3 linked regions of the Homo sapiens genome follow. The protein of the gene in region 1 interacts with the protein of each later gene in a biochemical or structural test. Each region holds a gene or a part of one and is shown on either strand. Other genes may lie near its edges.

Region 1 (4,192 bases):
GAAAAAGTCAAAAGAGCCTCCACTATTCAAACCACAAATCTAGCCAACACTTTTATCTTGAGACATCTCTGGAAAAATGATTTTTCCTTTTCCCTGCTCCTCAGTGCCAGGGATTTTTATTCATTTTGTGGTTACTGCATGCTTGCCATATGCCAGGCAATGTGTTTATTAGCTTATTATGATTTCAAAATTAGCCCTGGAAGACAACACATATCTTCAAAGGACTCTCAGAGGTCATCTCATATCTTCCCCTAGCTTTCCTTGTTGATAAAAATGGCAGTTCATCCCTCACCACTTAATACGTGGAGGGACGCGGGCCTAAAGAAATTCAGTGACTTGACCAAAGCCCAGAGTGGTGATGAAACCAGTACCCAAGCGCGGGGTTTCTCACTCCCCTTTTCCATCACACGTATATATATTAAAAAGACATGAAGTTACTAAGATGTGTCCTGGAGGCTCTGAGGCAGATCTGCTGTAGGAGGGATCAGCAGAGGCTTCTCTAGTCAGGGCATTCTCTGGGCGTTCAGCCCTTCCCTCCACTGGGCTCCAGCGCTGTAGAGAGGGTGGGGTTTTTACCTATCAGTATAGCGGGAAAAGATACCCAGGTGGCAGGAAGTTTAAGCCTCACCTGGAACTTATATTGAAAGCCACTTGGTAGAAAGGATAATGGTTTGGAGACAGAGTTCTATTCCTGCCAGCATTGACACTGTGTCTGAAAAGCCAGCATCGACACTGTGTCTGCAAATCCCTCAGCTATTCTGAGTCTCCGTTTTCTCCCTGTGAGATGGAGATCATAAAATCCGCCTCATCCTTAGGATTATTCTCCTGAAGCTACAATAAGGCCTGAGGCATTGTACGCTGGAAGAAACGTGTATTAATAGCAACTTCTGTCCCACCCCATCCCCCAACACGTCGATCCCCTCCGGAGCATAAAACTTTCCCCCAGCATCTGACCTGCCCAGGCCACCCTAGCACCTAGGAGCGTGAATTCCTGATGCGGGTTGTGGGTGGCGCGCCCTCCCGGTTCCCGCTCTCGTTTTTGTTTTTGGTCGGGTAAGGCGATGCTGTAGAGGCTGGCGATCTCCAGTCTTCACGAATCCGCACGTCTCTCCATTATCCACCGCGCCCGCCCACTGGGCCCCGGGGCGGCCGGCGGCCGGGTCTCTCGGGCTCCGCGTGTCGCCCGAGCCGCCGCCGGAGCGAGGGTCCCTGCCCCCTGGGGAGCGGTCTCCAGCCGCTTCGAAGCCGCCTTCTTCCCCCTCCGTGAGTCAGAAACAAAGGCGGGGGGGCGGGGGGAGCGCCCGAGCTGCGGCTCCGCGATTCGCCCTTTATTCTGAACTCGCAACGTCAGCGGCCCGCGGATGGAGCTGCGGGGTGCGGACTGGGCCGCCCACAGCGCACCGGGCCGGGGGAGCGGCCGCGCTGGGCCGGGCGGGCGGGTGGCGGGGGTGCGCTCGGGGACCCGGGCCGCGTGGGCGCCGGGATGGAGGGCGCCAAGGGGCGGGGAGCGGGCGTGCGTGTGTGTGCGAGTGCGAATGCGAGGGAGGCCGGCCTTGAGTGAAACCGGAGCTACAAAGAAGGGGAGAGTCCGGGAGCGGGAGGGCGCGAGGGAGGAGCGGCGGCGCCGGGGCAGCTCCGACGCCCTCCCGCGGGGAAGGAGCCCCCGCGGTGCCGCCGAGGCCCCGACGCGGGGCCGCCCCTCGGCTCGCCGCCCCGCGCCCGCGCCCGCTGGGAATGATGAAGAAGAACAATTCCGCCAAGCGGGTGAGTGCGCTTGCCCGCCCTGCGGCCGCCGCCGCCTCCGCGCTCTGACGACCCCCGCTCCGTCGGCGCCGCGGCGGCCTGGGAGACCCACGGCCCGGCCGCGCCCCCGCCCCGGCGGCCCGGTCCCCTCGGCCTCGGCCCCGCCAGGCGCCCGCGGGGGCTTTTGTTTGTTTACTCGCCTCGGGGGGCTTCAACTTGGCTGAGTTTCCCCACGACCCGCACCTCCCCCGCCCCCGGGCGCCGGGCGAGCGTTTGCCTCGCGCTCCGCCGTGGCGAGGAGACAATGGGAGAGAAAACCAGAGAAACGCCGTTAGTCCCCGCGCGGCGAGGACGGGGCGGCGGGGGCGCAGGGCCTGGAGGGAACCTGGGAGCCTCTCCGCGCCCGGCCGGCGCCCCTGCCACTTGCAGCCCCGGTTGTTTATTCGGGAGCGGGGGAGGGGAGCGGGGGGAGTTCCTCGGAGTGAAAACCTTTCCGAAGTGGGAGCGAACCTGGGGCGGCCCCCCGCCCCCCGGCCGCAGCCTTCGGAGGAGACTGGGCCGCCGAGGCGGTCGTGAGAGACGGACGGAGAGGAAGCGCCGGCTGGAATCTCCTAACCGCCCGCTTCTCATCTTGTCCTGGGGCAGGGACCTCAGGATGGAAACCAGCAGCCTGCACCGCCCGAGAAGGTCGGCTGGGTCCGGAAATTCTGCGGGAAAGGGATTTTCAGGGAGATTTGGAAAAACCGCTATGTGGTGCTGAAAGGGGACCAGCTCTACATCTCTGAGAAGGAGGTGGGTGCCTCTTGCCTCTAACTCTCCGTTTTCTCATAGCCCCCACTTTGTCACTCCCCAAGGGCTCGCCTAGCTTACTCCACCCCCGTTTTGTTCCAAAGGCAAGTTCAGTGGTCTCCTCTCTACCCCCATCTCATCTGCAGAGAAAGGCCACCCTTTAATGAGAAGACCAGAGTGAGAATTAGAAGTTGAGTTGGCCGCTTACTCAGTGTTTTTTTGTTTGCAAATACCTTTCTAACAACGATAAGCCCCTCCCAAGATGCCCCAGAAGTTCTAAGTGTCCCTTGCTGCCTCCCACCCTAACCTGGCCTCCTGCATATAGGATTTCTTTTCTATTTCTGCTGAAACAGTTTAGCCTATTCGCCACCCCTTCCTGTCCCCCCACCTTAACCCAGCCAGCCTCCCCTTTCCTGTCTGTGGCAGGAGCGTGCACAGGTCCTGTCCGTGGCGCATCCGCCCTGAATCACAGAAAACACGCACCCCGCCGTCAGGCCCCTGTGACCTCGGGTGTGTGAGTGGCAGTTATTTTCGTTGAAGCCAGTGTCCCTAACCAGTATGCTCTCTGTTCCCCACCCCCACCCCATTTAAAAAAGGCAAGGAACCCATTTTCTACCCACTTCCTGCCCACCCCTCCATTTGTATCAGAAGGGAGAGAAATGGAGTTAAGAACCCCTGTATGTCTTTGGATAGCTTTGGCTGTGTAGTTAACCATGAAAACCACAGTCTACACTGTGTCAAGACCTGAGCTATGATAATTGAATCCAGACCCATCTCCCTTTTTTCCCTAAGTCTTGGGATCAATAACGTGTACTAATGTGGAGAAATCAGAATTGCCCCTACAGTGGTTAGAAGTCATTCCATTCCCTGCCTCTGTGACTGTCCAAAGGCAGTCAGTATAGCCTGGAAGACTGTCCTGTGTACCGGTTAGAGTGGCCCTTCCTCCCGCCCTCACGGGAGGTATTCTGTGTTCCCTCACCCAGGGCTAACTGGGAAGTCCTCCCTGAGTTCTAACCTCTTCTGCTTTCTGCAGTAGACATCCTTATTCAGTAGATTATATTTAGGTAAATAAAACCTTTTATGGTATTGAAACATACACACACACACCCTGAGACAAAGTACTCATCTAAAAGAACATCTACTGAGGCATCTAGGGAAGAACTAAGCTGTGCCACAGCCAAAGAGATCCCTCTTAAGGGTATTGAAACCTAGCTGTTTACACAAAACTAGCAAGTTGGTGATGGAAAGTCTTAGGAGTGAGGTGAGGGCACTTTTCTTGGTCTGTCATCCAGGCAGGAATGCAGTGGCTCAATCACAGCTCACTTCAGCTTCCACCTCCCAGGCTCAAGTGATCCTCCCACCTCATCCTTGGAGTAGCTGGGACTACAGGTGGGTGCCACCATGTCTGGCTAGTTTTTGTATTTTTTGTAGAGACAGTGTTTCGCGTTGTTGACCAGGCTGCTCTCAAAACTCCTGGCCTCAAGTGAACCACCCGCCTCAGCCTCCCAAAGTGCTGGGATTACAGGTGTGAGCCAACCGTGCCTGGCCAGGAGGATTTATTTTTAAGAGTTACCTCTGCCCAATCACAAATCCTCCAGAAAGTTTTCTCCACAATTTTCTGGCTTTCTAAATTAAAAAAAAAAAAAAAAAAAAAAAACAA
Region 2 (3,500 bases), on another chromosome or scaffold:
GGTGCATTTTGCTCAGCTGTAAACGGGAACCTTCCTGCTGAGTGGGGCGGTGGGGAGGATGCACGGAGCTGCTGCGTTGGAAAGCACAGGCCTCCTGAGGAGGCGGCGGGATGAATTTGGGCTGATGCTACTCCTGGTGATTGCCAGACAGGACTGAGGGCACCTGAGAGCACAGAAGGGGCTCTGCAGGGCAGTGGGCACAGGCTCGTTGTTGGTCCTTGGGAGAGAGTGGTAGGGCCTGTTAGCTGATGGGAGGGCTCCAGACAGGAATGTGAATCACTCCCACCACTGTACTCCTGCCCAACCAGACGCTGCATATTAGCTCTACAAACCTGCACAGCAGCCTGGGAGGTGGGCAGTGTTAGCACTCCCATCTCGTAGATAGGAAACTGAGGCCCAGGAAGCCACATAGAATATTGGGGTCATTCTCGTGAGTAGTTCGCCTCTCAGTGCTGGGCACTGCTGCAGAGCTTAAGGTGTCTGCTCTCACTCATCCTCACCACAGCCTGGCAGCTCGCTGTCCCGATCGTCCCCGTTGTACAGGGGAGGAAACGGGCATAGAGAGGTTATTGGATTTGCTGGAAGTCAGTAATAGGCATGATGGTTGAACCCTGCTCTGTCGGCGAAGCTGCCTTTTGAAGACAGCCTCATCTTCTTGCCCTGCCTGCTATGACTGGAGTTGTCACTGTTGTCATCATGATTTCTTTTCTGCTTTCTCTTCTCCTAGACAGAGCTGGCACAAAGTAGGCCTCAGTAATCCAGAAATGACTCCATTCCATGCCTGCTTGGGATGTGGGGTGTGGCTGCTTCTCTCCACCCCCAATACCATGACCTTGGCCCCTCCCAAGGGGGGCCCAGGGGGAAGAGATGAGGATGGGAGGCACCCCCTCCCCACTGCCCTAGGGGCCTGATTGCTGAACAGCCTCAGGAGCCAGCCTTTGGCTGTTCTTGGTCATTTGTGTGTTCCATCTGTCTCCAAATATTGATTGAATCACTTCTATGTGCCACGTGTAGTTCTGGATGCGATCGGAGGTGGCAGAGAGGTTGCATTGGCCTGTGAGTGCTTGGTGTGGCTGAAGGAGGGAACAGAGATCTAGCTGGACTGGGTGGGAGAGGGGCTTGGGAAGGCTGCTGAGGAGCCCCTGTGATGTGAGAGCCCGAGGAAGTGGGCTGGACGGGGTGCAGCCAGGTAAAGGCCGCAAGGAAGGCGATATCTGGATGTGCTGGTGGAACAGCAGGCCCATGTAGCTGGAGCCGGGGGAGTGGGTGAGGGGGAGAGAGCAGGGTGGCAGGGCTCAGGGCCTGGGCTATGATGGGGATCCAGGGCTTTATCCCCAAAGAGAAGGGACACAGGTGGGTGGGGAGGGACCTGTGTGGGAGAGAGCTGGCTGGATTCAGGTGGCAGCCAGGGATGGAGAAAGCAGACCATATTCTGCTTTGGAGACAGGGCGCCCTAGAGCCCAGCTTCTCAAACTGGTGTCCGAAGGCCTTGGCGGGTGGGAGGAGGTGTCTGCAGGGCATTGACTCTTTTTAGCTGTGTGTTTTCATTTAGATGATATTTTCAAAAAGTTAGTAGGGGCATGTTGGAAATTATTGGGATGATTCCTTTAGAACCAAGTAGTGACAGCAGTAACATTAGCTGCCACTGCATGGCTCTGACAGGCTCAGGACGGCCCCTGATGTCAGAGTCCTTTATGTAATTGCCACCTATTTTTCAAGCACTGGCCCTGTCCCCAGCTGTGTGTGAAGCCATCTCATTGGGTCCCCAGGACAACCCATGGTTATCAGAAAAATCATCTTTTTAAATTTTTCATTATTTTTTTGAGACAGGGTCTGGCTCTGTCACCCAGGCTGGAATGCAGTGGCACCATCATGGCTGATTGCAGCCTTGACCTCACTGGCTCAAGTGGTCCTCCCACCTCAGCCTTCTGAGTAGCTGGGACTACAGGCATGCACCATCATACCTGGCTAATTTTTTTAAAACAATTTTCAGTAGAGATGGGAGTCTCCCTATTTTGCTCAGGCTGATCTTGAACTTTTGGGCTCCAGTGATCCACATCCCTCAGCCTCCCAAAGTGCTGGGATTACAGGCGTGAATCACTGCACCTGGCCTGCAAAAATTATCTTTTGAGATAACATAAACATGTGCTTGGGCAGATTGGTGTTAAGATTCCATTCTACAGGCTGGGCACGGTGGTTCACACCTGTAATCCCAGCACTTTGGGAGGCCGAGGAGGGTGGATCACGAGGTCAGGAGTTCAGTACCAGCCTGGCCAAGATGGTGAAACCCTGTCTGTACTAAAAATACAAAAATTAGCCAGGTGTGGTGGTGGGTGCCTATAATCCTAGCTATTCGGGAGGTTGAGACAGGAGAATTGCTTGAACCTGGGAAGCAGAGGTTGCAGTGAGCCAAGATCGCACTACTGCACTCCAGCCTGGCGACAGAGTGAGACTCTGTCTCAAAAAAAAAAAAAAAAAAAAAAAAAAAAAAAAAAAAAAAGATTCCATTTTACAGATGCGGAAGCTGAGGTTCAGAGAAGTGACCTGTGTAGCCTGGAAGTGGTAGAGTCAGGATTTGAGTTGACTAGAGGTGTGAGTTTGGGCCTGAGTCCTGCTCCAATTCCCCAGGTAAGCTGCGTTGGGGTGCGGGAGAGATGGGGTATAGCATGGGAGCTTCCAGCCGCACTGGGATGATCTGGCTCCTCTTGGGCCTGTGAGAGTCACATCCCTGCCTCCTGCCTTTAAGCTCCCGGTGCTTAATTAGCAGGAATTCTATAGAATTGCACTCCAGAATGGTAGCTACTAGCCATGTATGGACTTTTTTTTTTTTTTTTGAGACGGAGTCTTGCTCTGTCACCCAGGCTGGAGTGCAGTGGTGTGATCTTGTCTCACTACAACCGCCGCCTCCCGGGTTCAAGCGATTCTCTGCCTCAGCCTCCCGAGTAGCTGGGATTACAGGCGCCTACCACCACGCCTGGCTAATTTTTGTATTTTTAGTAGAGACAGGGTTTCACCATCTTGGCCAGGCTGGTCTTGAACTCCTGACCTTGTGATCGCCCCCCGCCCACCCCCCCCCCCCCCAGCCTCCCAAAGTGCTGGGATTACAGGCGTGAGTCATCGTGCCCGGACTCACATATGGCTTTTTAAGTTTTAATTAATTACAATTAAAGAAAAGTAAAAAGTCAGTTCTTTAGTTGCACTAGCCATCATTCAAACATTTAGTAACCACATTTCTGTCGTTATGGAAAGGTCTGTGGGCTAGTTCTGCTCTGGTTGCGGTCCCTCTCCTGCACCTACTCGCTGTGACTGTGTGCATGTGGCTCTCTCCCTGGGCCTCAGTTTTCCCATGTGAGGAACGGGGATAGTAACACAGGCTGGCTGTGAAGATGAACATTAATCCATGCCTGGTGCTTTGTGAGTGCTCACTGAGTATTAGCCTTGATGCAGACCCACTGGTTTCTCCTTTTGCCACTGGGCCCTGCCCTGGAGCTCCCAGGGAG
Region 3 (3,500 bases), on another chromosome or scaffold:
TGTATCTGTCTGTCTGTCTCTCTGTCTCTCTGTACACTAACCACAAAGAAGGCAAATAGTTTATTTCTTCAAATGTTACAAGCAGCTTATAGCCTATGATTTGCCCGTCTTCTCATAGGGTCAAAGACATTGAGTAAGATTCCCTTTTATAAGGGATACTAGTAGCCTGAGGAATGATTCTTGTCTCCACCAGTCTGGATATTCTAGAGAAAAGAATACCTGGATATTCTAGAGAAAAGAATATTCTAGAGAAAAGAAAAGGCCCAAGGAAGCTGGGATGCAATATAGGGTGCTTTCCCATCAAAACAGATGATGAAGGACCCTTGGAAGCTGACCCATGGCATCCCCCCGCCACTGGGTTCTAGCTCTGTCGCCCAATCTGGAGTCCAGTGGCGCAATCTTGGCTCACTGCAACCTCCGCCTCCCGGGTTGAAGCAATTCTCCTGCCTCAGCCTCCCAAGTAGCTGGGATTACAGGCACCCACCACCATACCCGGCTAATTTTTGTATTTTTAGTAGAGACGGTGTTTCACCATGTTCGCCAGGCTGGTCTTGAACTCTTAACATACCTTGTTTTTCCACTTCTGAAGTTAATAGAATAATAGTCATTGGAATTTGCAGTTCATTGGTGTTGTCACATACCCTTTACCTCTAATCAGAAGTCTGAATCTGAGAAGTTTGTTTACTAAATGGGAGGTAAAGATTTAGAACTCTTTTGGAAGAATTGTTAAAAACTAGATTGTTGTTAGGACTAATCTCATAGGCCACCTTAATATTCTAACAGCTTTGTTGTTTTCCAACCTGGAAAGATGGGGTAATTACAGAGTTCTTAGGTTTTTCATAAATAATCAGCTAGTTCTGGGCTATTTATTTGAGAGTGTCTCTCTCTGTCGCCCAGGCTGGGGTTCAGTGACGCGATCTTGACTCACTGCAATTCTGCCTCCCGGCTTCAAGCGATTCTCCTGCCTCAGCCTCCTGAGTAGCTGGGATTACAGGCACCCACCACCACGTCCAGCTCATTTTTTGAATTTTTAATAGAGATGGAGTTTCACCTCGTTGGCCAGGCTGGTCTCGAACTTCTGACCTCAAGTGATCTGCCCGCTATGGCCTCCCAAAGTGCTGGGATTACAGGTGTGAGCCACCGTGCCTGGCTGGGCTCTTTATTTAGTTTTGATTTTTTTTTTTTTTTTTTTTGCCTTGGGCAGCTAGGGGGGATGTTTTTGGCCCAGTTCTAGTAGAGTGGTGTTTTCAGTGACTTTTCTTCCTCCTTTTACTGTATCCTACCTTGGTTGAGATGATATTTTGCAAGAAAGAGTTCTTTATTAAGTCAGTTCTGTGTGTGCAATACTATAATTGTAATTCACTTTTGGAAGCTAGTTATTAACATAACATTTTGTAACTAGGTTTTGCTCTTGAATTTTTTGGGACCCCCCCCCGCATCTCTTCCTATAGCATATATGTACTTTATAGACTGGTACAATATAGAAGTTTGAAAGTGATTTGACCTGTTAAGATTTTAGCAGGATTTTTTCTTTTGATATCCATATATGTTGTTTTGTTATACCGAAAATAATAGAAAAAAACTAGTGTCCCATTCCCACTTTTTCTCTGAGCATAGCAACTGGAGTCTTGGGAGGAGGCTTACATCTTTCAAATTTAACTATGATCTCAGAATATGGCTGGTGCTTTCAAGGCAAGTTTTGTTTTGTTCAGGTTTGTTTTCATGATGTGTTAGGATCTGCCTAGTATCCTATCTGGTAGGCTGTACAACTTGAGTTCTAGTTATTCTGGTTTGTGTGTTCCCAGGAAGAGGGGGGTTCTGCAAAAATATTTAAAAGCCAGTCTTCTTCTGTTTTCTTCTTAGTCACATCTTCTGTCTACTTTACTCATTGACCATTTCTCATTCTTTGGAGATGAAAGTGTAAATTAAGTGAATGATGACACTAGAGCTGAAAAGTTACCCAGAGTCATGTTTATTCCCTTTTCTACTAAGCAGGGAACTTGAACTCTGGGTGCACATGAGTTCTCTGGAGAACATCTTCATAATGCACTGTAATATATGTCGTGTACACAGGTTAGCTCTTTGTGCTCCAGAGACACATTTTACAGTCATGATTTGGTATCTGCACTTGATGATTTTATAATTTAAAGGAATCACTACAAAGATTGACCAGCTCTGTGTCTGTTCCTGTGCCTACACGCCTGTACAAGCATACTCAAACACATCTGGTAGCAATGTAGGAAATCTTGCAGGCTCTGTGGGGGTGAGTGATACATTTAGATCAGGCTCTGTTTAATTAGGGGACTTAGAGGAGCAGGTGAAGCTTAAAGAGTGATTAAAAACTGGGAAACAAAAGTCTGGCTGTGGGAGATAATAAAGTAGAGAATTCTGTGGGCACAGAATAGGCAAGAAGATTATGCAGTGAGAAGTGTTGGGAATCATGAGTTCAGCTCCTGAAGGGCTTTGAAATCTGCTATGAGAACTTCTTATGTCTTTGGAAATCGGGAGCCACAGTTGAGGAAAGTGGTGATTTAAATGTTTCTCTGTGAAAATAATTTTGGCGCCCATGTAATTGTATCCTGTCTTTCTTGTAGATGTTCTTATAAAGAATAGGATTTCTGAATCTAGAAGAGCTGTGAGCAAACATGCTTTTGGTTTCCTTCTCCTCTCTGCGTGCAGTTGTGAATGTGGCTTACAAAGTTGATAGCAGTTGTATACATGGATCTAGGGATGGTTTGACAGTGGTGGTGGTGGTTGTCTACTTGCTGACACTTGGTGACTACTATTGATAATGAGAACCACAAGGGTAAGAGATTTTTAAAGCTTTACCCCCACATCCCCCCTGCCCCCAAAAGTTACCCTTAGGTTGTATGTATGCAAGTGTCTTTCTTCCATTGCAGGAGATCCTGAGCACCTTGGTTCCCAAGCCTCCTGCATGGTCCGAGATTCTTGTTAAAAATGTGGGCAGTAAGGCCCTTCTGCCAAGCTTAGTGAATCTGAATTTTGAGGGATGGTTCTAAGGAATTTGTTGATTTAAAAACCCCATGTCCAATTATTTTGTACAGGTTTGAATTAGAATACAATGGGTTGTGACCCATTATGGGCATTTATTTTCATGGGATGATGTGCTCAGGAGATTTTGTTTTGGCCAATAGTGTTGAGGAAAATGTGGGGATTGGTTTGCTTGCCTTTTTATTTCAGATTGCAGCAGTCATAGAGATGTTGGAGCACAAAGTGAAAGAGTTGTTTCTGTGAATTCACTTTAGAAATCTAGCTGTGAGCTCTGTGTGTGTGTGTGTGTGTGTGTGTGTGTGTCTTTCTGTATGTTTTTCTGTATGTATGTGTGTCTCGGGGTGGGTATTGAAGTCAGTTTGTGTGTGTGTTTATTATGAAAGTTGGTCAGGATGTAGTACTTCCATAACCTTAGGTAAGAACAGGACCTTTGGGTTATTGATTCAACATGAATTCATTTGAAATAGAAGCTTTGTGAAGCTTAGCAA

The links. Proteins that work in one complex are often made in the same cells at the same time.
Region 2: the proteins of PLEKHO1 (region 1) and AKT2 form a complex in vitro, tested with the Homo sapiens proteins (one study listed by BioGRID).
Region 3: the proteins of PLEKHO1 (region 1) and SMAD5 form a complex in vitro, tested with the Homo sapiens proteins (one study listed by BioGRID).

What each region holds. Positions count from the first base shown.
Region 1 is NC_000001.11:150,148,524-150,152,715, forward strand, and holds the start of PLEKHO1 (pleckstrin homology domain-containing family O member 1), read left to right. Parts: upstream 1-1,392; 5' UTR 1,393-1,734; coding exon 1,735-1,764; intron 1,765-2,073; exon of another isoform or gene 2,074-2,388; coding exon 2,389-2,535; intron 2,536-4,192. UniProt on the Homo sapiens protein: Plays a role in the regulation of the actin cytoskeleton through its interactions with actin capping protein (CP).
Region 2 is NC_000019.10:40,275,346-40,278,845, reverse strand, and holds part of AKT2 (RAC-beta serine/threonine-protein kinase), read left to right. Parts: intron 1-3,500. UniProt on the Homo sapiens protein: Serine/threonine kinase closely related to AKT1 and AKT3. All 3 enzymes, AKT1, AKT2 and AKT3, are collectively known as AKT kinase.
Region 3 is NC_000005.10:136,135,845-136,139,344, forward strand, and holds part of SMAD5 (mothers against decapentaplegic homolog 5), read left to right. Parts: intron 1-3,500. UniProt on the Homo sapiens protein: Transcriptional regulator that plays a role in various cellular processes including embryonic development, cell differentiation, angiogenesis and tissue homeostasis.